Homo sapiens: one gene and its partners. The protein of the gene in region 4 interacts with the protein of the main gene of each other region in a pairwise test. Each region holds a gene or a part of one and is shown on either strand. Other genes may lie near its edges. The genes, in order: SLC26A6, SLC34A2, GAD2 and TMEM128.

Region 1 (7,918 bases), on a different chromosome or scaffold from region 4:
CTGCTCCTCCGGCGGCAACTGAGCCGTGAGCGACTAGAGGAAGCCCCTGCCCCTGTTCTACGTCCCCTGAGCCGGCCAGGGTCCCAGGAATGCATGGATGCTGCACCAGGCCGACTGGAGCCCAAAGATCGGGGCAGCACCCTGCCACGGAGGCAGCCACCTCGGGACTACCCTGGCGCCATGGCTGGCCGCTTCGGGTCACGGGATGCGCTCGACTTAGGGGCACCTCGAGAGTGGTTGAGCACGCTGCCTCCGCCCCGCCGCACCCGGGACCTTGACCCACAGCCCCCACCTCTGCCCCTGTCTCCCCAGCGGCAACTCTCAAGGGACCCCCTCTTGCCATCCCGGCCGCTGGACTCTCTGTCTAGGAGCTCGAACTCTCGGGAGCAGCTGGACCAGGTGCCTAGCCGGCACCCCTCACGAGAAGCCCTTGGGCCACTCCCGCAGCTGCTCAGAGCTAGGGAGGACTCGGTCAGTGGCCCCAGCCATGGCCCCTCCACAGAACAGTTGGACATTCTTTCCTCCATCCTTGCCTCTTTCAACTCCTCGGCCCTCTCCTCTGTGCAATCTTCAAGCACACCCTTGGGCCCTCACACCACTGCCACACCTTCTGCCACAGCCTCTGTGCTTGGGCCCTCCACGCCACGTTCTGCCACGTCTCACAGCATCTCGGAGCTGTCGCCAGACTCAGAGTAAGTATGGTCCAGCCACCTGCTTGCACCCTCATCAGCTTAGGGCAACCTCCTGTGTGCCCTGCCCTGTGTTCTGCCACAGAAGGGGATGAGGGCTGGCAGACAGGTGTGGGCTACCCCAGGCTCAGCACAGCCAGAGGGCCACAGGCTGGGGACAGGAATCTGGCAAGAAATGGGGGTGTGACTAGCAGGGACTTGCTGGCTGTGTGACTGGAGCCAGCCAGCCTTCCCAGCACCTCCCAGGCTAAGGAGAAATAGGTGCCATCCGATGGGCTGAGCTAGCGAATGGGAGGGCAGGAGCTGAGGCCTAGAAGTGGGAGATGACCTGGAATATGCAAGGGGCAGGGAGGAGAGCAGGAGGCCTTGCTTGGGAAGGTTCGCCTAGGGGGTCATATAGGACAAGGAGAGGCTGGAAGTGGTGCCAGGATATACCAGGCTGAAGGGCTTGCTTTGTTGAGGATAAATCATTCATTCATCGATGTATTCAGTCAACATTGAGTTCCTCCTGTCTGTGGACACTTTGGGGTGGGGCTCACAGGAACTGAGTTGGAACCTGGTTCATCTCGGGTATGTGTGAAGCATCTGTGGGGAAGGGGATGGCGGACAGACCCAGGAAATAGCTGGATACACAGGAGTCCGAGAGGGACTGGTGGGAGTGGGGAGGAACCAGGAGCTTCCAGGTCTCTTGTAAGCCAAGAGGAGAGTTGAGTTTCAAGGAGGAGAAACAGCTGGGTCAGGCTCTGGGGGTTTGTGGGGTAAGAGATGGCTTGGGGAGGAAGGGGGCCCTAGGGGTGGGGCAGGGGATCGACAGAACTGAGCAGGACCCAGGGCAGAGAGAGGACAAAGGAAGGAGGAAAGAGCAGGGGTTTGGGGATCCTGGGGCTTGGGCACTGAGGGCTGCTGGGGGTGGGGACCAGAGGGAGCTAACCCACGGCCTGGGTCCCCCTGCAGTCTAGCTTTGGGGTCTGGCTGTTTGGGAGGTAGACTAGGGACTGAGCAGGGGTCCAGGCTCTGGAGTCGCACAGGTTTGAGTTTGAGCTCTGTGTCTTACCTTACTAGCTGCGTGACCTTAGGCAGAGGCAAGCTTTTCTGGGCCTCAGTTTCCTCATCTGTAAAGAAGTCTGTAGTAACAAACTCTTTGAGATGTGGAAATCTATGAGATAATATCTGTCAAGTGCTCAATATAGCATCTGTAAACAGTAGGTGCTCTTGAAGCACTTAGAGAAAACACCTGGGCAGCCAAGGAGCCTGGCTGAGTCTAGGGGCGCGGAATGGAGGACTCTGAGAACCCTGGAGTGGGCATGAAGGGGCTGGGGGCTAAGAGGCGAGAGCAGTGGTGGAGGCAAGGGAAGCAGCCAGGCCAAATGTGGTGGGGGAGTCCAGAGCCGCCTGACTCGGAGTCCTCTGGGCATCAACCTCTGATTTCCTCATGTGCCTCCAGAGTTCCCAGAAGTGAGGGTCACTCCTGAGGGGATGACGGCGTGGACGAGGAACAGCTGAGGGCGACAGAGGATCTAGGCTAACAGGAGAGACTCCAGGAGTGGGGGCAGATCCCAAGGCAGCCTCCTGCTCCCCAGTGGTGGGTGCCCCAGCTCTACCTGGTGTGGCAGGGCTGAGGCTCCATGTGCATCTGTGAGCATGCGTGTGACAGGTGCAGAGACGGGGGACTGGAGGGAGACTTTTATACGTTTTGTACCTTTGTAACCAGAGAGATGCTTATGTTATTTTTCAGCTTTTCTGTCTCCTGGGGGGTTTGAGGCTGGGCTGGGAGGGGGAGGGAGATAGAGGGAGAGATGCAGTTTGACCCCATTTGGGTCCTGAGCAAACCCTATGCTCATCTCTCTCTCCTTCCTGGGGTGGACTCAGATGGGTGGGACACATGCCTTCCTCCCCCTATTCCACCCCCAAGTTGATCTGAGTATCGTCAGGGGCCCAAAGTACAGAATTGTTCTTTGCTTTTTATTGAATGCTCCAAAGGCCAAACTTCTGGGGCTGGGGGTTGGTCTTGGAAACAGGGGTCCTCTGACTTCCTCATGGGGGCTTGCTCATACCGCCCCTCCTGGTGGATGTGTGTGTTTATTATGTGGAGTCCCTGCCACTTACTGCCTTATGACCTAGGACTGATGCTGTGGGGTGCTGGTGGAGCAGCTGATGTCGTGTTTACAGAGCAAGGCTTCCCTGTCTCCCACGGGGAGGGGCTCGGGCCTCTAGTCAGACATTCCTGCAGAGGGTCGGTGGAGGGGTCATTCACCTGCCCCTGCAGCAAGCAAAAGTTGTCTGTGGTGCCATTTGATTCCCTGACACTGCCCCCTGCTTGAATTGATTCCGAAGGGTAGGGTGGGAAGGTGAGCAAAGGGAGCAGAAACAAGGGAATTCAAGACCCAGAATGTAGGTGCCACTGCCTCCTATGTTTACAGGATCCTCCGTGGCCCTAGGCACCTGGGCTGCAGGAAGTGACTCCGTTCCACTCCTCCTTTATTCCCTTAAAAAGGGAAAAATGACTGTTACGACCCTGTTCACAAAACTCTTACTTTTGCTATTTTGTCTGCTGTCCAGAACTGAAGACTTTAAAATTTTGTTACTGTTTACAAGTCCAGATTCAAAAAATGTTTTTACTTTGTTTACAACTCAAAACTTTGAGTTTTACACTTTGTTTACAGTAGATAATTTTTTTTCCTTTGTTTCCAAGTGAAAGGTAGGGAAAGTGGGAGAGGGACTTGGAGGACCCACCTGTGAGGACCCTGACCTGGCCATCTTGAGGGGTTTTCTAACCCCCAGGTCTCCCAGGCCGAAGGTCAGCCTTGAGTCCCGTTTAACAGCAGATCCAGAAGACCTTGAGAGTAGGCGTCCTCTAACCACGGGGGAGAGTGGCTGTGCAGGGCTGGGGGGTGGTCTGTGCAGACACCTCCTCACCCACCACCCCATGCATACTCTTGGGAAGCAGCTTCCTGGGAGATTAGAAATTCTACTTCCCTGACTGGAGCTAAATCCCACCAGCCAGGACCCAAACTCTCCTTACCGAGAAGGACCCCAGCTCTTGAAGGGCTGAGTGGCCTGCTGGGGGTGGGAGGGTGTCTTTACTATGTCCTAGGTTTCGTAGATGCCCCTCTCTGGGGTTCCCCTCCTCCAGCCCAGCGGCCCTCTTTCCTGTCTGTGTAAATTGTTCCGTGAAGCCGCGCTCTGTTTTGGGAATAAACTTCTATAGAAAACAGTTGTTGCCTTTTCCTGTTGGGGGCTGGGGAGGTAGGATGGAAGCTGTGAATGATTCAAGCCAGACTGACCTTTGGGAGGAATCTGAGCCCCTCCCAAGAATATCCAGCTATTTTTAGCCCATTTCATGGCAGATCTCTTTCACCTTGAAATCTGGCCCCTCACTTTGTAATTGGGGCCTGATGTTGGAGCACAGGTGCTGAAAATAAGGTGCTAAGGAAAACCTCCCCGCTGGTCAAGGCAACGGCAACAGGACTTCCTAATTCTTCAGGGTCTGCAGCCCTGACCCGGCATTTTTTGCCCTCACCTGCGGTGAAACCAACCTGAGGAACTGCTCTTGCAGTTCCTGCCTTGCCCACCCAACAGCACTGACGCCCACCCAACAGCACTGACCCCCACCATTCTCCTCGGCGGCCCGCGCAGTAACCTTCTGGGAGCTACGTCCGGGCTGTGCTTAGTGCAGCGGAGGGGATCCTCCAACCATTTCTGGCCTGGGTGGCCAGAGTTAAAGGGGAGGACTTGGGGACCGTTGGCTCCGGGTCTCAAAGAGATGCGTAGTCGCAGAAAGCCTGCGGGTGGCGCTCTCAGCTGAAGGCAAGAGAGGCCCCACAGACCTGGATCCCCTACGAGTTAAGGCTGGGGTCACCGGCCAGTGGAGTTTCCTTTTCCCACTCCGTGAGCACCTTCCGCCGAGCCAGGACCTGGGATCAGCTCCAACCTACTCAGGGCCTGGGGGCGCGACTGCGGCCAGCCCGGCGCGGGTGCTTAGTTCCAGTTCTGCAGTCCCATCCAGCTCCGGGCAGAGGGCCGGGCGAGCAGCGAGAGGCCTCATAGGCCAGGTCGCCGGGGAGGAAGCGGTTAAATCCTCCTTCTCCAGTCTCTCCCCGCCCGGCGCGCGCCACTTAGGCCCCGCCCCAGCGCGCTGATTGGCCCAAGCCTCCCCGTCCTGCCCCGGGATTAGCCCCCGGGAGAGCGCAGCTGGCCTCACCCGGTCCCGGCGCCGCCTTCCGGAGCGTAGCGGCCTCTAGCTCGAGCAGCAGGAGCAGCCCGCACCGGACAACTTGCGAGCCATGGGGCTGGCGGATGCGTCGGGGTGAGTTCAGCGCACATTCCCGGTGGCCCCGCGCGAGCGCCTCGCTGGAGCAGGCATTCTCCGCTTGCGACGCCTCGCTGGAGCAGGCATTCTCCGCTTGCGACGCCTCGGTTTACCTCTGCTGATTTTCTGCAGGCGGCTGCCCCTCTGCAGCAAGGGGTGGGGGCGGGAGCCGGCGCGACCCCAGTCCCTTGGGCTGTGCGGAAAGCCGCTGGTGTGACGCCCGAGGGCCATCCCGGGCCACAGGGAGGCAGCTGCGTGCGGAGGAGCCCGGCCAGGAGATGTGCCGGCGGGGGTGCGTGGGGCACGGGAGTCCCTGGCAGCGGCCCGTGGACTAGCTGCTTTCAGCTGAGTCCCGAGTCCACCCAGCTCCACTGATCCCGGAGTGAGCGCTCCGGCCTTTCTGGCCCCAGTTGCCTTCCTACAGGGAGGGGCCAATGATCAAGGCTCCGCCCTCCAAACGCGGGTCCCAAGTTGTCGGGGGAGGGAGCCCTTTAAGAAGACCTGAGTGACTCACGTAGGAAAGGAGAGGGGGCTCTACGATCTCCTTGAGATAGCGGTCCCAAGAGTCTCTGAGGATCTTCCTTGCACCCACTCCACACTCCTCCAACAGTACAGCCAGGTTAGAGGCGCTTCCCAGGTGAGTTCCTGTCCCTCAAATGGGATCCTCTCCCCAGGTCAGGGCTTTTCCTAGATCAGAACTTTCCTGACTGGTGAAAGCTTCCCCAACAGGCTAGAGTTTTCCCCCAGGTAAGATCCTTCTGTGAGATCTATTCCCAGGTGACAGCTTTTCCCCATTCCACGTGGGAGCCTCGCCCGAGGTCAGAGCTTTCTCTATGGGAGAGTACCCCCCAGGTGAGAACCCTCTCCCTCTAGGTCTTTTCTTCCCATGTGAGATCTTTCTCTGACTTCAAGTAGGTGCCTCTGGGCAGAGGGAAGATTCCCCCTGTATCAGAACTTGCCAGGCTGATAAAGATTCCCTGGTAGGTCAGAGATCCCTCTAGGTGAGATTCCCCTTGAAAGCTTCTATTCCCAGGTGAGCTCTTTCCCCCACTTCAAGTGGGTACTTCCCTTTCCATGTGGGAGCCTCTCCCTCTAGGTGAGAGATTGCCACTCCAAGAGCAAGCTCCTTCTCAGGTGAGAGCCAGTCCTTGGCTTCCCCATAACAGGCCTGAGCCGTCTACAACCTGGACCCTGGGGCTGGAGGCCCAGGGGCAAGCTTGGCTCCAACACTTTCCTTCCCTTAGAGGGGAGGGTCTCATCTGAGGCCTGAGGCTTGGGAAAGGAGTTGCTTGAGGAGCTGGACCCCTGGTTTGCTGGACCCCTTCCCTGAGTGTGCTCTCAGCCAGCAGTGGGCTCCCGGGGCAGCTGGAGGAGGACCTGGGGACTGGAGAGGGACTGGGTGGGGGAGGGAGCAGCCTGGGACCTGGACTGGTAGAACACTCAGCACTGGGCTGCCACATCTCGGCTGGAGGTATAGCTAGTGCTCATCCTGCAGTCCCTACTTGGGGGACTTTGTCCTAGAAAGAGGCTTTCTCACCAGCCAAAGTTCAGGTACTGCCCCTGTCTGAGTTTGGACATGTGGCCCACAGATGCCAGCTGGGGGCTGGAATACTGTACCTTGATCTTAGGGCCTGGAAAAATCAGGTAGGTAACTCTCTGGTCCTAGGTGGAGGTGTAGGGGAGGTTGGGCCAGGGATGCCTTCACTGTGTCTCTCTGGTCTTGCCACCCCAGACCGAGGGACACACAGGCACTGCTGTCTGCAACACAAGCAATGGACCTGCGGAGGCGAGACTACCACATGGAACGGCCGCTGCTGAACCAGGAGCATTTGGAGGAGCTGGGGCGCTGGGGCTCAGCACCTAGGACCCACCAGTGGCGGACCTGGTTGCAGTAAGGCCAAGATTGGGGCCTGGGGGCGCTGGCGGGGCCCAGGTAGCCCCTGTTCCTGACACCTACCCCTCATATCATGTCCCTAGGTGCTCCCGTGCTCGGGCCTATGCCCTTCTGCTCCAACACCTCCCGGTTTTGGTCTGGTTACCCCGGTATCCTGTGCGTGACTGGCTCCTGGGTGACCTGTTATCCGGCCTGAGTGTGGCCATCATGCAGCTTCCGCAGGGTGAGCCACCTTCAGTGCGTCGGCCTGGAAACCCTGTGGTCTGTGATGCCCAAAACTGGGGCCATGACCTCTACCTTGGAACTATGGCACCTAACCCAGGGCTGGGATTCCCTTATCGTTTCAAGATCTGCTCTCCAGGCCTGCACTGCTACCATTCTACCCCTAGGCTTGGCCTACGCCCTCCTGGCTGGATTGCCCCCCGTGTTTGGCCTCTATAGCTCCTTCTACCCTGTCTTCATCTACTTCCTGTTTGGCACTTCCCGGCACATCTCCGTGGGTAAGTGGAGGCAGGCCTAGCCTTCCAGGAGGATGCCCACATCCATCATGGAGGGCAGGGTGAGGGGGCACTGAGCAGGGCAGGAGCGGCTGGGGAAGAGGGCAGCATTGGTGCTGCATCCCTGGGCTAGCCCACGAGTCATCCCCAGGCAGGACTAGACCCCTGACTGTAGGACCACAGAGGCAGGTGACCTCAAAGCCCTGGCTCCAGGAAGATGAGAGTGGGTGAGGCAGCCCAAGGGGCCTGGAACTTGGCAGAGGCCTGAGCAGCCTAAGGCCAGCCCTGACCCCTTCCCTACTCCACAGAGAGCCTCTGTGTCCCGGGACCAGTAGACACAGGTGGGACAGGGTAGATGAGACAGGGCCAGCATTTCTAGCCATGCTTAAGGGCCTGTGAGCTCAGGGTTTACTCCTGGCCTGGCCAAACCTGAACCGCCAGCACTGTCCCTGTTCATGCAGCCATAATCTGAGTACATTTATCCAGAACTGGAAGTCTCCTGGCCTCTCTCTTAAGACCAGGGCTCCAG
Region 2 (6,422 bases), about 21 Mb from region 4:
GTGATTTTTAAAGCCATCACTTCATCTTCCAGCCTCATGCGATCCCACTGATTATGACATAGTTTCAGTGGTGCCCCTTGCTGCGAAGGAGGCTGAGAAGGGCTGTCTTGATTTGGGGCTGCCATCTGTTAAACTAACAACCAGGAATCTGTTTGTAGGAAAGACAGGATCTGGGGGAATAAATAACAATCTGTAGCCGTGGTGGCTCCATGCCCTCCTGACAAGATTCTTTGTGGTCTTTCAGGCCAGCATATCTTTGTGAATTTCCACCTCCCGGATCTTGCTGTGGGCACCATCTTGCTCATACTCTCCCTGCTGGTCCTCTGTGGTTGCCTGATCATGATTGTCAAGATCCTGGGCTCTGTGCTCAAGGGGCAGGTCGCCACTGTCATCAAGAAGACCATCAACACTGGTAGGTACACTGCCCTCACTTGTAGGCCTCACATGTAGTCACTGCATGGGGTGTGGGGGTCCTTTAGATTCCCATCTAGCAATGGCCTCTGCATGGAGTTTCTCTCTCAGATTGGATCAGCACCAGAAGTGAGGATGTCATTCACCTGGAAATGTTCTTGGCATCCTGGGTGGGGTCTAGGGAGCAGGCCCAAGTTTCCATTGCATCTTGGCAAGGTCCTGAGCAGGAGTTCATATCTAGAGAGCTGTGAGTCAGGCCTTCCTTCTTAGCGGGTTTCCTGTATGCTCAGAGCTTTACTGGCTCTGTCAAGACCCCTTAGAAAAAGGACCCCAGGTGTCTGCCCTCGCCCCCACCTCCCTTCACTCTTGTAAAGGAAATGTGATGCATAAATACATCAGCATCTAGAGGTGGCCAATGAGACTGCTGGCTAAGAGGATTTCCTGCCAAGTAGGGTGTCCTGGCCAATGAGAGCTCGCTAAGCCAATGACATCATCACTTCATGAAAGCTCAGTGAAATATAGCCAAGAAAATTCGCCCCCCACCCCAGATTGTCTTGGGGAACAGAGCAACTCTGGGTGCTTCTGGGAAATGCAGGGCCTGATCCGGTGCTAGTTGGGTGGAGGACTCAGTTGGCAGGCATGTTCCAAGCTGCTACAGTTTCTTGATGCTCTTTAAGGCAGAAATGAAGGTTGAAGGTCAAATGTGGGTGCTGACAGGAGACCAGGGCAGGCGAGGAAGCATGCTCTCAGCACTTTCTGGAAGGAGAGTGGTTACTTGGGTGGGTTCACTCTTTCTAACCTGACCTCCAGGGAATCTGTGTTTTTGTTTTCATAACACTTACCTGTATCCTTGGTTTTTCCATCTGAATATGCGGAGCAAAAGACAATGGGGAATGAAACTGGATTCTAAAACTCTACTCTGTAATCTGAGACCATATATGGGATGATGTACAACCTCACCCCTAAGCCCAGCCCCTACCCCAGGCCACCAGGCCATACCTTCCCCGGAGAGGCCATGACATCTCTTCCTTCTGTCTTCCAGATTTCCCCTTTCCCTTTGCATGGTTGACTGGCTACCTGGCCATCCTCGTCGGGGCAGGCATGACCTTCATCGTACAGAGCAGCTCTGTGTTCACGTCGGCCTTGACCCCCCTGATTGGTGAGTTACACCCTGGCTTCTCCCTCTGGCCACCACTGCCATTTCCTGTCATCCCATGGGGCTGATATGTTTGTGTTTTGTGTTTCCCCCAGGAATCGGCGTGATAACCATTGAGAGGGCTTATCCACTCACGCTGGGCTCCAACATCGGCACCACCACCACCGCCATCCTGGCCGCCTTAGCCAGCCCTGGCAATGCATTGAGGAGTTCACTCCAGGTCAGGACTTGGGGCACGGGGACAGGGGCCCTGGGAGTGGGACCACCCATGGTCTTGCAAACTGGTCTCTAACAAGAGCCAGGCTTTTCTCTGTACTATCCAAAATATGGAACTAATATGTGGAGGGGAAGCCACGGGTAAAGTTTTCAGGACCTTGATATGAGAACAATCAAAACTATCAGTTCTGAGAGAAGCAGTAAGACCCTCATAACTGGTGGTTGTTTCAGCAAAAGTGGGGTGGCCCCTTGATATAGATGTGGAAAAGGTACTTAGGAAGCACAGACACCACCTCCCATCTCCTCACTGCCTCCTATGGGGAACTTTACAATTAGGAGAACTCCTTGGCATGGACCATCTATGTTACTTTGTGCAAGACCTTTGGGATTTGAATTTATTTATTTATTTTTATTTTATTTTTTTGAGACAGAGTCTCGCACTGTAGCCCAGGCTGGAGTGCAGTGATACAATCTCCACTCACTGCAACCTCCACCTCCCAGGTTCAAGTGATTTTCCTGCCTCAGCCTCCCGAGCAGCTGGGATTACAGGCACCTGCCACCACACCTGGCTGATTTTTTGTATTTTTAGTAGAGACGGGGTTTCCCTATGTTGGCCAGGCTGGTCTTGAACTCTGGACCTCATGATGTGCTTGCCTTGGCCTCCCAAAGTGCTGGGATTACAGGCGTGAGCCACTGCACCCAGCCGGGGATTTGAATTCTTATCTCACCATTTACATACTAAGTGACCTTTGGCAAGTGATCTAACCTGAGCGTCAATTCCCTCATCTGAAAGATGGAGGACATAACCCCTATCTCATTAGGATTATTATAAAGATCTGATGAGGCAAAGCCATCTGTGCAACAGAAATAGAAATTCAGGCATCTAATATAAATTAACCGCATATGTCATCCTAAAATTTTTTAGTAGATACATTTTTAAAAGTAGAAACAGGCTGATTCATTCTTCAATAATGTATTTGATCTAAACCATTATCACTTTAATATGTCATCTGTCAAAAATTGAGAGTCTTTGAAATCTGGTGTGTATTTCATACTTAAAGCACATCTCAGTGTGGACATGCGGCTAGTGTATTGGACAGTGCTGGTCCACAGCCTGGGCATGGAAATTGGCACCTTGGGAAAGTGACCAAGCGCCTGGCCTCTGGAGCCAGGCTCCCAGGATGTGAATTTCCACCTCTTCCATCTCCCACCTGTGGGACTTGAGGAGCCTCCATTTTCTCATGTCAAGAAATAATGGTTGCCACTCTGTAGAGTGTTTTTTGAGAATTGAGATAATGCACAGTTGAGTGCTCCTGGCCCTCCCAGACACATAGTAGGTCCTCATGGAATCCAGGTACCCTCTGGGCTGAGCCATAAGGACAAAGAAGGCCTGGAAGGCCCGAGACTGTGCTGCCTGTGATGCCTGCTAGCTTACCTCCCCCTCCTCCTCCCTACTGCCACCCGCATTGGGCAACAGGCCCCTCACCTGTCCAACCTCTTGTGTTGCAGATCGCCCTGTGCCACTTTTTCTTCAACATCTCCGGCATCTTGCTGTGGTACCCGATCCCGTTCACTCGCCTGCCCATCCGCATGGCCAAGGGGCTGGGCAACATCTCTGCCAAGTATCGCTGGTTCGCCGTCTTCTACCTGATCATCTTCTTCTTCCTGATCCCGCTGACGGTGTTTGGCCTCTCGCTGGCCGGCTGGCGGGTGCTGGTTGGTGTCGGGGTTCCCGTCGTCTTCATCATCATCCTGGTACTGTGCCTCCGACTCCTGCAGTCTCGCTGCCCACGCGTCCTGCCGAAGAAACTCCAGAACTGGAACTTCCTGCCGCTGTGGATGCGCTCGCTGAAGCCCTGGGATGCCGTCGTCTCCAAGTTCACCGGCTGCTTCCAGATGCGCTGCTGCTGCTGCTGCCGCGTGTGCTGCCGCGCGTGCTGCTTGCTGTGTGACTGCCCCAAGTGCTGCCGCTGCAGCAAGTGCTGCGAGGACTTGGAGGAGGCGCAGGAGGGGCAGGATGTCCCTGTCAAGGCTCCTGAGACCTTTGATAACATAACCATTAGCAGAGAGGCTCAGGGTGAGGTCCCTGCCTCGGACTCAAAGACCGAATGCACGGCCTTGTAGGGGACGCCCCAGATTGTCAGGGATGGGGGGATGGTCCTTGAGTTTTGCATGCTCTCCTCCCTCCCACTTCTGCACCCTTTCACCACCTCGAGGAGATTTGCTCCCCATTAGCGAATGAAATTGATGCAGTCCTACCTAACTCGATTCCCTTTGGCTTGGTGGTAGGCCTGCAGGGCACTTTTATTCCAACCCCTGGTCACTCAGTAATCTTTTACTCCAGGAAGGCACAGGATGGTACCTAAAGAGAATTAGAGAATGAACCTGGCGGGACGGATGTCTAATCCTGCGCCTAGCTGGGTTGGTCAGTAGAACCTATTTTCAGACTCAAAAACCATCTTCAGAAAGAAAAGGCCCAGGGAAGGAATGTATGAGAGGCTCTCCCAGATGAGGAAGTGTACTCTCTATGACTATCAAGCTCAGGCCTCTCCCTTTTTTTAAACCAAAGTCTGGCAACCAAGAGCAGCAGCTCCATGGCCTCCTTGCCCCAGATCAGCCTGGGTCAGGGGACATAGTGTCATTGTTTGGAAACTGCAGACCACAAGGTGTGGGTCTATCCCACTTCCTAGTGCTCCCCACATTCCCCATCAGGGCTTCCTCACGTGGACAGGTGTGCTAGTCCAGGCAGTTCACTTGCAGTTTCCTTGTCCTCATGCTTCGGGGATGGGAGCCACGCCTGAACTAGAGTTCAGGCTGGATACATGTGCTCACCTGCTGCTCTTGTCTTCCTAAGAGACAGAGAGTGGGGCAGATGGAGGAGAAGAAAGTGAGGAATGAGTAGCATAGCATTCTGCCAAAAGGGCCCCAGATTCTTAATTTAGCAAACTAAGAAGCCCAATTCAAAAGCATTGTGGCTAAAGTCTAACGCTCCTCTCTTGGTCAGATAACAAAAGCCCTCCCTGTTGGATCTTTTGAAATAAAACGTGCAAGTTATCCAGGCTCGTAGCCTGCATGCTGCCACCTTGAATCCCAGGGAGTATCTGCACCTGGAATAGCTCTCCACCCCTCTCTGCCTCCTTACTTTCTGTGCAAGATGACTTCCTGGGTTAACTTCCTTCTTTCCATCCACCCACCCACTGGAATCTCTTTCCAAACATTTTTCCATTTTCCCACAGATGGGCTTTGATTAGCTGTCCTCTCTCCATGCCTGCAAAGCTCCAGATTTTTGGGGAAAGCTGTACCCAACTGGACTGCCCAGTGAACTGGGATCATTAAGTACAGTCGAGCACACGTGTGTGCATGGGTCAAAGGGGTGTGTTCCTTCTCATCCTAGATGCCTTCTCTGTGCCTTCCACAGCCTCCTGCCTGATTACACCACTGCCCCCGCCCCACCCTCAGCCATCCCAATTCTTCCTGGCCAGTGCGCTCCAGCCTTATCTAGGAAAGGAGGAGTGGGTGTAGCCGTGCAGCAAGATTGGGGCCTCCCCCATCCCAGCTTCTCCACCATCCCAGCAAGTCAGGATATCAGACAGTCCTCCCCTGACCCTCCCCCTTGTAGATATCAATTCCCAAACAGAGCCAAATACTCTATATCTATAGTCACAGCCCTGTACAGCATTTTTCATAAGTTATATAGTAAATGGTCTGCATGATTTGTGCTTCTAGTGCTCTCATTTGGAAATGAGGCAGGCTTCTTCTATGAAATGTAAAGAAAGAAACCACTTTGTATATTTTGTAATACCACCTCTGTGGCCATGCCTGCCCCGCCCACTCTGTATATATGTAAGTTAAACCCGGGCAGGGGCTGTGGCCGTCTTTGTACTCTGGTGATTTTTAAAAATTGAATCTTTGTACTTGCATTGATTGTATAATAATTTTGAGACCAGGTCTCGCTGTGTTGCTCAGGCTGGTCTCAAACTCCTGAGATCAAGCAATCCGCCCACCTCAGCCTCCCAAAGTGCTGAGATCACAGGCGTGAGCCACCACCAGGCCTGATTGTAATTTTTTTTTTTTTTTTTTTACTGGTTATGGGAAGGGAGAAATAAAATCATCAAACCCAAAAGGAGTGTGTTGTTTTTAATTACAGGGAAATAGGGACCTCCTTGGATCTATTTTATAAAAATGTGAGGTCTCCTTTTACCTCGTTGCACTGCTAGGAGCAAGATGGGTCACCAGCAGCTGTACTGGAGCCACCCAAAAAAATTCGGCCAGGGTTCTCGTTCTTGTCGTGTCTATTCAAACCAGCACGGTCTGATCCGGAAATATGGCCTCAATAAGTGCCGCCAATGTTTCTGTCAGTACGCGAAGGATATCGGTTTCATTAAGTTGGACTAAATGATCTTCCTTCAAAGGATTATCCAAGTCATCTACTCAATGAAAAACCATGATAGTTCTTTGTACATAAAATAAACATTTGAAAAAACAAAACAAAACGAACAAAAAAAAATGTGAGGTCTCTTCCTTCACTGAATGTCACTACCCACCACTTACCATCTGACCCTCCAGCTGCATAATTTGTGGAGCCTCTTGTTCAAAAACCTGGAGAAAAGTGTCATTTTATATTGTTCAATGCCAATTT
Region 3 (7,024 bases), on a different chromosome or scaffold from region 4:
CAAATGGCCAACCTTTCAGATTTGAATTCAGATTTTCACTTATTTTTAAGGAAATGTGCACAACACACAAGCAGGCATGATACAGACTAGCTTAGCAATTCAGCCATGTTATATAAGGATGTGTGTTCCTCCCAGCCACTGTATATGTGAGATAAAGAAAAAGGGGGGGAGGGGCAAATCAGATATCCTTAGGGGGAAATTTTTTTAAATGTACTTTTGTGGTCTCTTGGCTTTTCACAGGAGTCTTTATATTCCATCCATATTACAGCTTCATTTATAACATTTATTTGGGTGCATTCCGAGCTTTCATGTTATCTACACAAAGTCAGCCATTCATCTGCCCAGGTCTTGATTACCCTCGCTTTTTACGTTGTCTCTAATCATCCTGATACACGATGGCTGACACTTCATTACGGCAATAAAAATAAGTATGAATGAATTTCCAGGGGTGGGGAGGACTTTGTGGATCGAAGTTGATGTGTAGCCTTTAAAAGATTTGCTAGCAAATAAAAAATGTGAAATATGACATGAACATTCATCACCATAGAAACGTCATCTTTTTAGATTGCAAACATTTTGCTGATGAATTAGCAGTATTACGCTAATCAATAACAAACATTCTTAAAATGTTTGCTGTGAGAAGTTTAGTTCTTTTTTTCTTTTTGTTCACATTATTTGTACCAACAGAGAAGAAAGGTAGGCATACAAAAAGCCTTGGGACATAGATTTCTATCAAAGTCAGGCTATGGAATAGGAGTTTTGAAGGTGTATTAGACATCATCCTCAATTAACGTTCATGAAGAACCCACGTGATGTTTATACCAGGCATTAAAAATTTTCCTACCCCTCCTCAGCTTTTCCTGCATTCATAGTGCAATCCTGGGTGATGCTTTTAATTCATTTTTTGACCCATTCCCCATACCTTATATTTAGATACGTTAATAGTAAATTGCCACCTATTGTTTGTATTGCTACCAAACCAAAAAGAACCTATGGAAATGTTTTGTGTCTTCATCCTTGAAAGCTAGTGGTGCCTGAAATGCAGTCTACAGAGTTAAGATAATGGGAACTGCAAGTCAATGAAAGTAATAGTTCTGTCTATCAACGTTGCATTTAGTGCCAGGAAAAGATGGGCTAATTCAATACTTACATTTTGCCATAATGCTTATGAAACTGTTAGGTGTCACTGTAATGCATTTTATTTAAAGTTCAGATAAAAATGTGATGGATTAAGTTGGATTTCTAAGCAAGGCATATCAATTCAATCTCTCAATAGTTTTCATAACATATTTAGTCTGCTGGCCTTTTCCTTCAAATAGCATTTCAAAAAATTAACAGCAGTCATTTTCTCTATTCAGCTGGCAACTTTATAGATTTCTGTGCTATAACTGTCATACTTGTCATCTAATGCTATTTAGGGTATGTCAAATTAGTTACCATCCTTGCTACTACCAGACATTTTAATACTCCTCAAGAGATTATTTTATAAAATGCATATTATCATCTTGTTTCTACTGAGAGACCTTAACCTGATTTCCACTTGGGCTCCAAGCTTAGAGAGGAGTGAAGGGCAGTGGGAAAATGAAGTCTTCATGGATTGTTAAAATTACCTCTGTAAAAAGAAATGTTGGAACACGGAAAACTGAGCAGAGAATGATAGAATTCCAGAATAATTTGCATTTGCAGAGATCATTAGATTTGGTGCTAGTGGTGGTGGTGCTGGCTGGGGAAGAGTAGGACTTAAATGTGGTCCTGAATCTTTTACCAAACCATCAGACAAAGGGAATTAAGCGTCAGTAGATGAGGCAGCCCTAGTGTGAGTGTTGCCAGGACATAAAGAGCAGTTTGGACCGACTTTTGGCCTCTTCCCAACTGATCATGAGCACAGGGTCAGAGTTGCCTGAGGCTGGTTGTTCGCAGAGTCTGCGCATCCTTCCGGGCTCATTTGCTAGTCTGCAGGGAGCATCCCTGAGTCTGAGCAGCCAGTTCTCACATCTCAAGCTCGCCACCTTCCTGGCTGCATAGGCTGTGTGGCCACCCAATGGCTGACGCAGTGCGCTCTGCTCCCATCACAGGGCCTGGCAGGGTGGCGACAGCAGCAGGAGGCCAAGGGCTGCAGGGACACCTGACCTATGGGGGCAGGTCTCACAATTCCTTGGAGAGAGCCCTGCCTTGATTTGCTGGGCAGCCCTAGGAAGCAGCCTGTAGGGGCCACAGGATGGGAGCAAATGTCACTAGGGGAATATTTCTGCCAGAAATCGAGAGAGCCTGTTGATCTGACCTGTCAAACTATCTCCCTCCCTATTTTCACATCATCATCAGGGAATGAAATTTTTGAGGCAGGAGAGATTCAGGTGAAATGGCAGAGCAAGGTCAAAATATATATAGGGAGGAAGGGAAACCTAGCAATGAAAGCGTCAAACCTGTTTTCACTGTTTACGGAAAGTTATCATCAGGGTGAATTGGCCTTCTGATATCCAGAGGCACAACACACCCCTCACAATCTCTCTCCATCTTATGCACAGGTTTTCATTCCCAAGTTTCCCTAGAGTTAAATACTGTCTAATCATAGACACCACATTCATCCAGAAAATGAATATGAATTATAATCCTTATTAATTTCCTCACTTGAAAAAAAAAGGGTTAGGGAAAGAGAAATGAAGGAGCATCGGGAGGGAGGAAATGGCTGTGATTTCAGCTGCGAGCATAATGAAATGGGGAGTCAATGAGGCAGAGAGGAGTGAAGGGTTGCTCCAGACCTCAGTGGCCACAGCAGCAAAAAAGCCTTCTCACCCTTCGTGGATGGGTAAACTGAGGGGGTCAGCATCAGAGATAGAGGGGTACCACACGAGGCCACAAGGACATAAAACAATGCTGGAGAATGTACAATAGATACACAAGTCCTGATCCCGCTAAAATGGGCTCCCTCCCAGCTTATATCTTTACCCAGTGTCTGTCTGGCCACATGCCTGAGGCTGATAAGAGAGCACTCCAGTGCAGGAGATAAGCTAGCCATTGACTTTTGTCCCTGCTCTTCCCCATTGCCTTCCTTTATCTTGTTTTGCCTGTGCTGGAGATGAGAGACAATCACATCCCAGGCTTCAGACAGATGTCCAGGATGTGGAAGATACCTTTTTATCAGATGCTATTTCCACAATGGCCCATCTTCTAAAATTTTTGCTGCTGTGCAAATCACGGACCTATCGATGACAGGCTTTTGTGGAGCAAGAGGAGAAAACTGAATGCTAATGACATATTTATAATCACATTTTAAATAATAGCCTCAGGAGAGTGTGGATGTCAATCCATTTAGAGAGTTTTAGAGGAATCTAGAAGTTAATTAGATAAGCCTTGCGATGGACTAATCAGTCGATTGAGTATATCTTTCTGTATCTTGTTGATAAAACAGTGATGTTGACTGTATGTGGCCTTATTTTAAATCACAACTATGGAGGAGCGCTGTTGTTTATAATTAACAAAGAAGAATTGACAAGAATTAGCTTTGTCCATGCCATCTTTAGACAATCATCACCTTTTGAATCCAGGGCAAATCATTCAGCAGAGTGTCCTATTTTCTCATTTTTGCCCTGTCTTTTGTAATCATCAGCCATTTGTCACTGATATTATTATGAATGTTGGCATGCCTGGCGGATGTCATGGTATGACCGATTCTCAGAACGACTACAAAAAAGGACTTCTAGCAGCATGAGTATAAAGGAGAAGTTACCTGTCTGAATGGCTGTGGGTTGCAGTAGCATTTTAGCTTGCGAAAATATTGAAAATAGAAAAGAGACTCATGCAGATTGCAAACCATATTTGTTATATTTATAGGGTCCGATTAAAGGAAGATTTGTAGGGTATGTTTTAAGAAATATCAAAACCTAAAGTAGTCTTCGTGGTTAGAGGAAACGCTTTTATGGTGTGTGTGTGTGTGTATGTGCATGTGTGTGTGTGTGTGTGTTCTTGTGCATACACACGTGTGTACATGTTGGATTTCTACTTATGGATTTCCTGTTACTGACAGATCTTTCAAGGTCCTTTAGCTAGAGAAATCATGTGTTTGAGAGGCATTTATTTTCACTGGAGGCAATCCTGATTCTGGTATTCCATTTTATTCAGGGCATCCTAGATACTTCAATCAACTTTCTACTGGTTTGGATATGGTTGGATTAGCAGCAGACTGGCTGACATCAACAGCAAATACTAACATGTAAGTAGCCAAATGTGTTTTTATGTAATTTAGGATAATTATTAGTGACATTCCATAGTCTTTACATCTTATGTGAAAATCTGTTTTTTATTAAGTAGCCACTAAAATAGTGATACAAACTTCTGAAGTGTGAGTGTTCACTTTAATGTAACAGAAAGTAGTCCTGATACATCTTCCATGTAATCAAACTCTACAAAATTTTTAAAATACAAAAGAGACTTTTTTCTCACGTTTGATTTATTATTGTGCATAATGTCAAAGACAAATGGGACCAGATATTATATTTTAAATCATGTTACTCTGCAATATTTTTTATTTATTCAATACAATAAATTCCCCTCGTGCATTATGTCAGTAGTTGGAGCTCTTGACTGTAGGGATATAGAAAAAATAAACATTTTGGAAGGCCTTTTTGAAATAATTTTCTCTCTGCTTAATGTTATAATCATAACACTTGTAAATGTATGTTTTGAAAAAGGAAATAGTTCTGTAGCTATTGTAATGATTGTAAATTATTTATCTGAGTTACAGAGGTAAAATGTGGCCATTACTACATTTCAGGTTCACCTATGAAATTGCTCCAGTATTTGTGCTTTTGGAATATGTCACACTAAAGAAAATGAGAGAAATCATTGGCTGGCCAGGGGGCTCTGGCGATGGGATATTTTCTCCCGGTACATGATATTTCAACTTTCTTTGTGTTTTTTCTTCTAATATGCAATGCCTTGTTGTAAACCTAGGGAAGATTAAAAATCTAGCCTATGCCTCTGCTTAGGTTAAATAGACTGTGTGTTGATCAAAAGAATGACTGTGATTAAGTGCACATGACCATTGAACATGCCTCCAAGCTAAGTAACCCATGCTTGAACATCAGTTATTTGTGTGCAAAGTGAGCATAATCAGAGATGGTACTTACCCAGTGCTTCTACTGTGACCCTACAAACAGGATGTACGGATAATGTGGAACAAAGGAATCAAGATTCCTAATCAGGAAATTCACTCTCTGATGCTCTTCCTAGAATTAGTGAAAGGAAATGGGTAGCCTCATTTAATAAAGCATTTGCTGTTCAAGGGTGCATAGCAAGGTATATCTACTCAGTAGAGCATATGGACCACTCTGTCTTTGAAATAACAAGCACCAAAGTGGATTTACACTAATTTCAAGGAGGACAGAGAACGCTTTGGGAGAGAATTTCTTAGAGCAAAAATAGAGGGTGACGATTTCTTCAAGAGATTTCTCATCCCTTCTCTTCTTTATCATGCCATTCAGTCTTTTCCATCCTGCCTTTTTATCACCAGCCATTGAATTCTAAGCTCCATTACTTAGACCTCTTCCAGCCAAGAGAATCAACCTGAAACAAAAAGCTGTGCCCTTGGTTTACAGTTCTGTGTGTGACCTTGGTTTGATGCAGAAAAGAAATAGAAGTTAGGAAGGCAATGCAAAGAGAGTCACTGACCCATGGAAAAGAAACCCGATGTGCAGACCATCAGCTAATCAGTGGCAGGAGCGGATGTCATTAGTCCACTGAGACAGGACCCACCTGAGAGAGAGGCCAGAGCAACACCTGTCGTTGTGTCAGACAGAGCAAAGGCCAAGTGGTTGTGCTCTCTCTTCAGCAAATCTACAAAGACAAGCAAATGATGAGGCGGGGATAGGGGAGAAAAGAAAAAGTGAAAAGAAGAAATGATAAGCAAGAGTGACCCCAAGGCCAGGGCTTAAGTTAAGCATGTTTGCCTGCAAGCTCTGGTCAGCTATTTTATGTGTTTAAATATATAGCACAATTTTTCAGGTGCTGAAGGAAAAGGTGTTAGTTAAATGGAAGGGAAAATTAGCCTTTTAAAAAGTCATTGAACACCAGCTGTGATGAATTTTAAGCTAGCCTTTATTTTTTATGGCACTTAGTACTTAGTTTTCCTTTGGAAAGCCATCCCTGTTGAGGGAGCTTGGTCATCATTGCCTGATGCTTTGAAAACATTGTTCATGAGGAATGAGGTGGGGTACAGAGATCCACATCATTTCTACCTTTCTTCTTCCCACCCTTGTGTGGTTGGTTATAGGATTGATCTGTCCCTGAGATGAATCAAGAACATGCTGGGCTCTATTTTTTTTTCTTTTATTTGCATTTATTTTATGCTGAATTTATTCCCGTGCATAAGTTTTAATGGTCCCCGGGAGTAGGGAGAGGACAGATGTACCTGTTGACCCTGAAAATTTGACTAATTTGACTAACAGCTAGGCCTAATTTACCTGGCTGGTCTGAAAAACCTACATGCCCCAGAAAACATACACCCAGAGAAATAATTCTCTTAGGCAGTTCTGCTAGGCTTAGAGCTTACCCTCCACCCTCACTGATAATGGGGGATTTTCACATGGAGAAGACTTCAGCTTGAGCATGGGAATTATAGGCTTCCTTGGAGCCTAAAGACCCATTTGCTCTTACGCCAAGATGCAAGCCATAGATGTCACACTACAGTGCAGTGCAGACATTGCAAAGTTGGGAGGAGACAGCAGAAAAGGTCATTGCAACCTGTTTCTGCTCTACTTTCTACAAGACATCACAGACGAGAAGTGGCTCATCACATCCTTACTGGCTATGGATGCTATTCCCGGGAGCAACCAGCCTTGCTCCTGCAGTAAAGGGTCTTACAATTTAAGGGGTGGGGATAGAGAAAGCCACACATCTTATGCATCTGGGATCTAAAAGTCTCATTCCCTGGGACTCAATGTGAAGAGTTAGGTCTGTGACTTAAAACATACTGTGTCATAGCTCCATCAATAATATCCAAAGCCTTCATGCTTCATGGAAAGTCCTT
Region 4 (7,279 bases):
AATACAAAAATTAGCCGAAATTAGCCGGGCATGGTGGCATGCGCCTGTAGTCCCAGCTACTCGGCAGGCTGAGGTAGGAGAATTGCTTGAACCCAGGAGACAGAGGTTGCAGTGAGCTGAGATCATGCCACTGCACTCCAGCCTGGTGACAGAGCAAGACTCCATCTAAAAAAAAAAAAAAAAAAGTCTTTAAAACGTTTGTATCTTTTGATCTAGGGATTCCAATGCTATAGCTTTTACCAGGGGAATAATCACAGCTGTGTAGAAATAGGCACACATTTTATTGTGTTTTTATACAATCAATGGAAGAACTTTTTAAAACTAGCTTTCTTCTTGGAATGAAGAACAGTATCCTAAATGATAGATATTAACATTCACTGAGCACTTTCCATATGCCAGGTACTTTTCTAAGAGCTTTACCTGTATTCTCATTCCTGGAGGCGCTCACAGAATACCTGGGGACCAATGGGGCAGCTACACAGCACAGTGAGAGAACAGGGTGGTACTGGTCTGGCCTCAGAGTTTCAAGTAACAGAAAACAACTGAAATTAAAATTAATTTAAAAAAGGGAAAATTTAACCATCTGTAAAGTCTCAGCAATGGATAATAACAGCTAAGATTTACTGAGAGTTTTCTATGGGCTGCTCTAAAGACTTCGCATGTATTAATACTTTTAATCTTTACCCAATCCTGTGAGGTGGGTATTATTCTTAACCCCATTTTGCAAGTGAGGAAACTAAGGCAAAGAGTGGATAAGATGCTTTCTCAAGGTTCAAAGAGTCAGTAATGACAGGACCGGCAATGACAGCCAGGCAGGCAGCTAGCTCCAGAGCTCAGTTCCTTAACAGGATTAACTAAGGCTTGGCTAGATCTGGGAGGCGGCGCAATGCTACCAAGACCTCTTAGCTTGCCTCTCAGTGCTTCCTTCCCACGTGGGCTCCCATTTCCAGAACAGCAGCCCCAAGCCCAAACTGACCTCAGAGCTCACCATATCAAAGCAACCGTGAACATCTTCCCAGCCTAAGACGTGGAGGATGAGAGGTCTGTTTTGGGTCTTGTGCCCTCCCCTAGGACGGGGTCAGTCTCTGGGATCTGAGCAGGACCACTATAGAAAGCAGCAGTGGTTTCTCAGAGGTAGGCAGACACATGTATATCCATATTGAAGACAAGTTAGCTGTGCTCAAGGACCAAAGTAAGCACAGCTAATGGAGTTCCTGCCGTGTGCTCGGTGTTTGCAAGGTACTGGGGGATACCAAGACATGGTTGTTTCTCCCAATCAACTGGGGGAAACACAGGGCAAAAGGAAAATAACAATAAAGCTTGGTAATTCTTGGAAGAGAGACATGAATAGAGTCACTGGAACCCAGGGACAAGGGAACACTGATCAAGGGGCGAACAGGTGCCGGATCTTGAAGGCCTGGCAAGCCAAATTACTAAGAATAGTAACTACTGCTGTTTGGAGGCAAACTATGTATGCCAGGCACTAAGCTAAACAATCTGTATACATGTATCTTCACTCCAATACCCGATGTTTCACAGATGAGCAAACTGATACTTAGAACAATAAAATAACTTGCCCAAAGACCCACAGTGATGGAGGCAGGATTTGACAGTCTATACACACCTTGGATTTAACTATGTTGCTAAGGGGGGGCCAGTAAAGGTCACAATGAAATTCATTTGTTCCCCACAAGTAATCCACATTGAAAATGAAAATTTCTTAATTGGTAGCAAATCTGGTATCACATATCTATCTATAATTAGGGTGCCACAGTACACACATTGAAGGGTTTCTTTTCTTTTCTTTCTTTTTTTTTTGAGACAGAGTTTCACTCTTGCTGCCCAGGCTGGAGTGCAATGGGTGGTCTTGGCTTACTGCAACCTCCACTTCCTGGGTTCAAGCCATTCTCCTGCCTCAGCCTCCCAGGCAGCTGGGATTATAGGCGCTTGCTACCATGCCCAGCTAATTTTTTTTTTTTTTTTTGTATTTTTAGTAGAGACGGGGTTTCACCATGTTGGCCAGGCTGGTCTCAAACTCTTGAGCTGAGGTGCCACCTGCCTCAGCCTCCCAAAGTGCTGGGATTACAGGCATGAGCCACTGCACCTGCCCAAAGGGCTTCTTTAATGGACCTCAGAAATGAAGATGTGGTCATTAAATACTGGAATTTTTCCAACCTCCTTTTAAGTATCATCAATATGCTGTGCAAGTAGTGCCATTTAAAATTGCAGAGAAAAAAACTCTGGAAGGATTTCAGATCCAAATTCAAAGGCCCCGAAACCACAAAAGGAGAAACCTGATCTGACCTGAACATACCATGTATGGGAACCTGGGATAGCGGCGATGCTCTTGGGAGTATTCAGTTACCACGGAGGCCCTGCACTGACCCTTTTTCGAGGAGACAATCAACAGAAGATTGTATTTGATGGGACAAATTCACTTCCTGTTAACAAGGCTTCTAACCCCGTACGAGAGAGAAGAGAGGGCAAAGACTTCAGTTGACTTTGAATAAATGAATCCAGTTCTTTAGGAGTCTTGAAAGAAAAAAAAAACAGAAAAAAAAAAACAGGATAAAGGAGGTATTGTTTAGAAAGGCCATATGATCCACCCAGCTGTTAAATCCTGTGCTCCGAAGGGGGAAGAAAGGCTGAAGAAATGATAAATCAGTAGGGATTTGGTATTTCTCTCTTTTTTTTAATTTTTTTTATTTTTATTTTTGAGAGGGAATCTCACTCTGTTGCCCAAGCTGGAGTGCAGTGGCAGGATCACTGCAGCCTCCTTCTCCCAGGTTCAAGTGATTGTCCTGCCTCAGCCTCCAGAGTAGCTGGGATTACAGGTGCCGGCCACCATTCCCGGCTAACTTTTGTATTTTTAGTAGAGACGGGGTTTCGCCATGTTGGCCAGGCTGGTCTCAAACGCCTGACCTTGTGATCCGCCCGCCTCGGCCTCGCAAAGTGTTGGGATTACAGGCGTGAGCCACCGCGCGCGGCTGGCACTCTTTTCTTGAGTATTTCTTATTACATTCCTTTTACAAACACCCCAACACATCGAAGATATTAAACAGTGCCTACTAATTCAAATTTTACTTCCTATGTAGCTGGCTCTCCACCCCTGTATTCAACTCACCTGAAACCACTCTCCCTGCTCTCCCACACTGCAGCAGAATAAACTGCCCTTTATATGTACAGTGTTTCTATTATGCCCCATGTACAGTGTTTTTATTATGGCACTGTATTGAAGCTGCTTCCTCTACTAGATTCTTCTGTCCTCACCATTTTATCACATGCAGCTGCTCAGAAAATGTTGGCTGCATTGATGAAATGCTTTCATACATTTACAAATAGAGTTTTCTTGTAATATACCTCTGTGGTTTTCTTTGGACAAGGAGCTCCTCACGTGCAAGGCCATGTCTTACTCATCTTTATCTCCACTGCTAGCATGGTGCCTAACAGCTCCTACCAAATAGTAGATGCTCAGTAAACGTTTGCGTGGCTAAGCCCACCATTTCTCAGCACATGACACGCTGGGAAACGGCTGGGAGAGTAATACGCGGGATTATTGACGAAGAAAAAGTTGTGAACTCGTAACACACAGTTTGTGGGCGTGAGCAGTGTGGAAAACCGCAGTTTGCTGGGAAAGCAATTTAGTTCCCTCGGTTCAGGCTGGGAGGATTTTTCACAAGTGGCGAGGAGGAGGCTCACATGAACCACATACAGGTACTTCTCACTGAAACGCACAACAAATCTAGAGCCAAGTGTAATAACGAAACGGGCCCCAAGAAGTTTATTTAATGCCCAGGGCCCCCAAGTGGTCACTGCCAGGCTCTAGCATCCTGTCCAGCAGGCCTTTCTCCTCCTTTCAAGTCTTGCTGGACGACTCCTGAAAAGCAAAAGTAGGAAAAAAACTGGGGGCTGAGAGTGGAAGGCTGGACAGAGGGTATGTCTCCTGCTCTGGCACCCGGAAGCCTGCGAGGGCTTCGGAAGCGCAGCGTCTCACGGTCGCGCATCCCGGCCCTGGACGCATCCAGCGGCAGCGGTAATCCTGGTCCTCCTGGGCTTCCGTAGGTCGGAATAAACTTGGGAACTCTTCCACCGGCAAAGCTCAGTGTTTTAAAATTCAAATCACACTTGCCGACATGAGAGCGGAACCTTTGAGGCCGACTCCACCCTAGCTGCTCGCTAACTAAACAGCGAAGAGAACACAGTCTCCAATCCAAACGCCAGGAGGTCCAGACCCGGAGCGGACGCCGGAAGCGCTGTGTCTGACGTCACTTCCGTCGCATTTCGGGGCGGTACCAAGATGGACTCCTCGCGGGCCCGGCAGCAGCTCCGGCGGCGATTCCTCCTCCTGCCGGACGCCGAGGCCCAGCTGGACCGCGAGGGTGACGCCGGGCCGGGTGAGGCGCGCACCAAGCCGCCCCGAGGTTCTCAGAGGCGAGGCGTCGGAAAACGGCCGGCCTCCGGCAGCCCTGGCCCAGTCTGGAAGGACTGAGTTTCGGCTTTGCAAGTCGAATATTTAATGTCAGGGAAGATCCTTAGAATCGCGGAGTGCTGTGCATCGTCATTTCAGCTGCGCTTCAGAATTCTCTGGAGAGCTGATTTGACACCTATTTGGAAATAGCGATTAAAATTAAAAATACCCACCAGTTTTAAGTCTTAAGGATTTACCAGAAACATGCGTGTACCGCAGTGTACAATGATGTGCGCAGTGTTTCACTTCAGGATTGCTTGTAATAGCGAATTACTGGAAATATCTGCCTTGCCCGTCAGCAGAAAGCTGTTTAAGTAAATTTGGGTATATGTATACCTGACACATCAGGTCGACTCGTATGTACCAATGGGGATGATTTTCAAAGGGAAGTGTGGAACACTATGGTATGCCGCCATTTGGGTACAAAACAGGTAACTTGTGATGTATGTTCACCTGTGAATGCATAGAATATGGAAGAATTCAGTAGAAATTGTAAGTGGTGGTTGCTTCTGGGGATTAGATCTGAGGTTAAGGATGGGAGACAGATACTTCATTTTGGATATTTTTTATCTCATATGTTTTAAAACCACGTCCATTTATTACCTTTTAAAATTAAAAACACGAATAACCTCATGCCCAGGCATGATGATGTATACATTTTGAGGATATCCCAGAATATTACGAACATGCTTCCCAGGGTTTCCGATGGTCATCTAAAGGCCCAAAACCTCAGATGTGGACCATTGATTCTCACGTGAACCTAGAGGGCATGTCAGAATCCCCGGAAAACTTAATAGAAATCATCCATCTGACCCAACCCCCATCCACCCATTCTTTCAGATTGCGTTCCAGACAGGAAAAATGTCTTGTCCATCACCTGTCTAGACAGTGCTGTGCTGGAACTAGAGCTCTGGTGTGCCGTTTCCACTTTTGAGCTGTGTTTAAAGTAACTAAAATATTTAGTTATAGGCTGGGCAGGGTAGCTCACGCCTGTAATCCCAGCACTTTGAGAGGCTGAGGCGGGCTGATCACGAGGTCAGGAGTTCGAGACCAACCTGGCCAAATAGAGCAGCCTGGCCAAGATGGTGAAACCCCGTCTCTACTAAAAATACAAAAATTAGCCCGGCGTGGTGGCAGGCGCCTGTAATCCCAGGTACTCGGGAGGCTGAGGCAGGAGAATTGCTTGAACCCGGGAGGCGGTGGTTGCAGTGAGCCGAGATCAAACCATTCCACTCCAACCCGGGCGACAGAGGAAGACTCCGACTCAAAAAAAAAAAATTTAGTTATAAAAGTGTTCTTGGAAGACCACAAGTCCAGTTCATGCGCTAATGTTTGCCTTTGGCATTTTTCCTAATTAACAAGACTAATTACTTTCCTAGAAGAAATGTGAAACATAATATTAAAATTCTTACATTTCCAGGTGACATTGTTATTTCCGAAAGACGATGAAAGTGTAAATTTGATTTCACAATGTATTTAGAGGAAATAAATTGACTGTATTGACCATATTTTATAGTGGGCTCTTATTTTTTGTAAATATAAACCTATCTCAAGGGTTTTACAGAAGGATTTGTTATCATGGGAGAGACTGTTTCTTAGCTCTAGGAAATGATTTTATTTGGCTTAAGTGTAATTTTTCCTCGCAAAATTGTGGTAACTTAATAAGTTGAAATCTCCCTTATTTGCAGAAACCTCCACAGCTGTTGAGAAAAAGGAGAAACCTCTTCCAAGACTTAATATCCATTCTGGATTCTGGATTTTGGCATCCATTGTTGTGACCTATTATGTTGACTTCTTTAAAACCCTTAAAGAAAACTTCCACACTAGCAGGTAAGAAAATTTTATTGCTTTGTAAATTAAACCCAAGTCTGATTTTTCGTGTTATATTTTGTTAGTTGAATTCTTCAAACAGTAAGCACCTACTACTCTCTGCCAGGCCCTGTGTTGGAGGTGTGGTGATACGAAGATGAATATGAGATGGGGGTCAAAGGGTACATATTTTTAGTTATAAGATGAATAAGGTCTGGAGATCTAATGTACATACAGTATAGTGACTATAGTTAATAAGGCTGTATTGTATACTTGAAATTTTCTAAGAGTAGGTCTTGTGTCCTCCCCCTGTTACCCCACCAGTGGTAACTATGTGAGGTGATGAGTGTGATAATTAACTTGATTGTGGTAATAATTTCACAATGTGTGTGTGTGTATATGTATACACGTATATATATATTCATATATATGTATATATGTATATATTCATGTGTGTGTGTATATATATATCAAGTCATCACACTGTATACCTTGAATATATAAAATTTTAATTTGTCAATTGTACTTCAATAAAGCTGGAAAAAATAAAACCAATGAGAGGGTGTGTGCTCTGGGCACATACAGTAGAGTGGAATAGAACTGGAAATTATTTGTGTGCAAATAAATGTGTTGTAGGATGAGGAAGGTAGTAAATTTAAGAAGAACCTAATCCATTTGGGGAAAAGAGGGAGAAAGACTGACTGAAGGTCTTCAAAGACCAAGTACAAGAGTACTGGGAGGAAGAGCCGAGAACTGTGGCCAGTGGGAATTGGGTCTCAGGGTTGGTTTCAGAGGGTGGTTACAGCTGACAAGGTAACTACAGGGTGTAACTGTGTTAGAGTGGAGGTGAAGGTCCACAGTGGGAGGAGTGACAGCTTTGTGGCCAGACCAGATGTCCAGTAGTTCCTCATTCACAGGGACTGAGATCCTTTCAGTATAGTCTCCAGAGTTGACATGGAGGAGAGGGTTGGAATCATATCCTAGGGTCCTTACTGCACATTG

What was found.
Region 1: the proteins of TMEM128 (region 4) and SLC26A6 interact in binary tests that used the Homo sapiens proteins (3 or more experiments, as listed by UniProt).
Region 2: the proteins of TMEM128 (region 4) and SLC34A2 interact in binary tests that used the Homo sapiens proteins (3 or more experiments, as listed by UniProt).
Region 3: the proteins of TMEM128 (region 4) and GAD2 interact in binary tests that used the Homo sapiens proteins (3 or more experiments, as listed by UniProt).

The regions. Positions count from the first base shown.
Region 1 is NC_000003.12:48,632,448-48,640,365, reverse strand, and holds the start of SLC26A6 (solute carrier family 26 member 6), read left to right. Parts: upstream 1-4,904; 5' UTR 4,905-4,972; coding exon 4,973-4,995; intron 4,996-6,519; exon of another isoform or gene 6,520-6,730; coding exon 6,731-6,889; intron 6,890-6,975; coding exon 6,976-7,115; intron 7,116-7,281; coding exon 7,282-7,392; intron 7,393-7,918. Other genes in the region: CELSR3 (cadherin EGF LAG seven-pass G-type receptor 3 precursor), read left to right, coding at 1-692, 2,134-2,161. UniProt on the Homo sapiens protein: Apical membrane anion-exchanger with wide epithelial distribution that plays a role as a component of the pH buffering system for maintaining acid-base homeostasis.
Region 2 is NC_000004.12:25,672,843-25,679,264, forward strand, and holds the end of SLC34A2 (sodium-dependent phosphate transport protein 2B), read left to right. Parts: intron 1-244; coding exon 245-412; intron 413-1,453; coding exon 1,454-1,570; intron 1,571-1,662; coding exon 1,663-1,787; intron 1,788-3,292; coding exon 3,293-3,907; 3' UTR 3,908-5,906; downstream 5,907-6,422. UniProt on the Homo sapiens protein: Involved in actively transporting phosphate into cells via Na(+) cotransport.
Region 3 is NC_000010.11:26,219,768-26,226,791, forward strand, and holds part of GAD2 (glutamate decarboxylase 2), read left to right. Parts: intron 1-4,119; coding exon 4,120-4,210; intron 4,211-4,771; coding exon 4,772-4,884; intron 4,885-7,024. UniProt on the Homo sapiens protein: Catalyzes the production of GABA.
Region 4 is NC_000004.12:4,245,221-4,252,499, reverse strand, and holds the start of TMEM128 (transmembrane protein 128), read left to right. Parts: upstream 1-4,276; 5' UTR 4,277-4,297; coding exon 4,298-4,394; exon of another isoform or gene 4,395-4,874; coding exon of another isoform or gene 4,875-4,899; intron 4,900-6,156; coding exon 6,157-6,298; intron 6,299-7,279.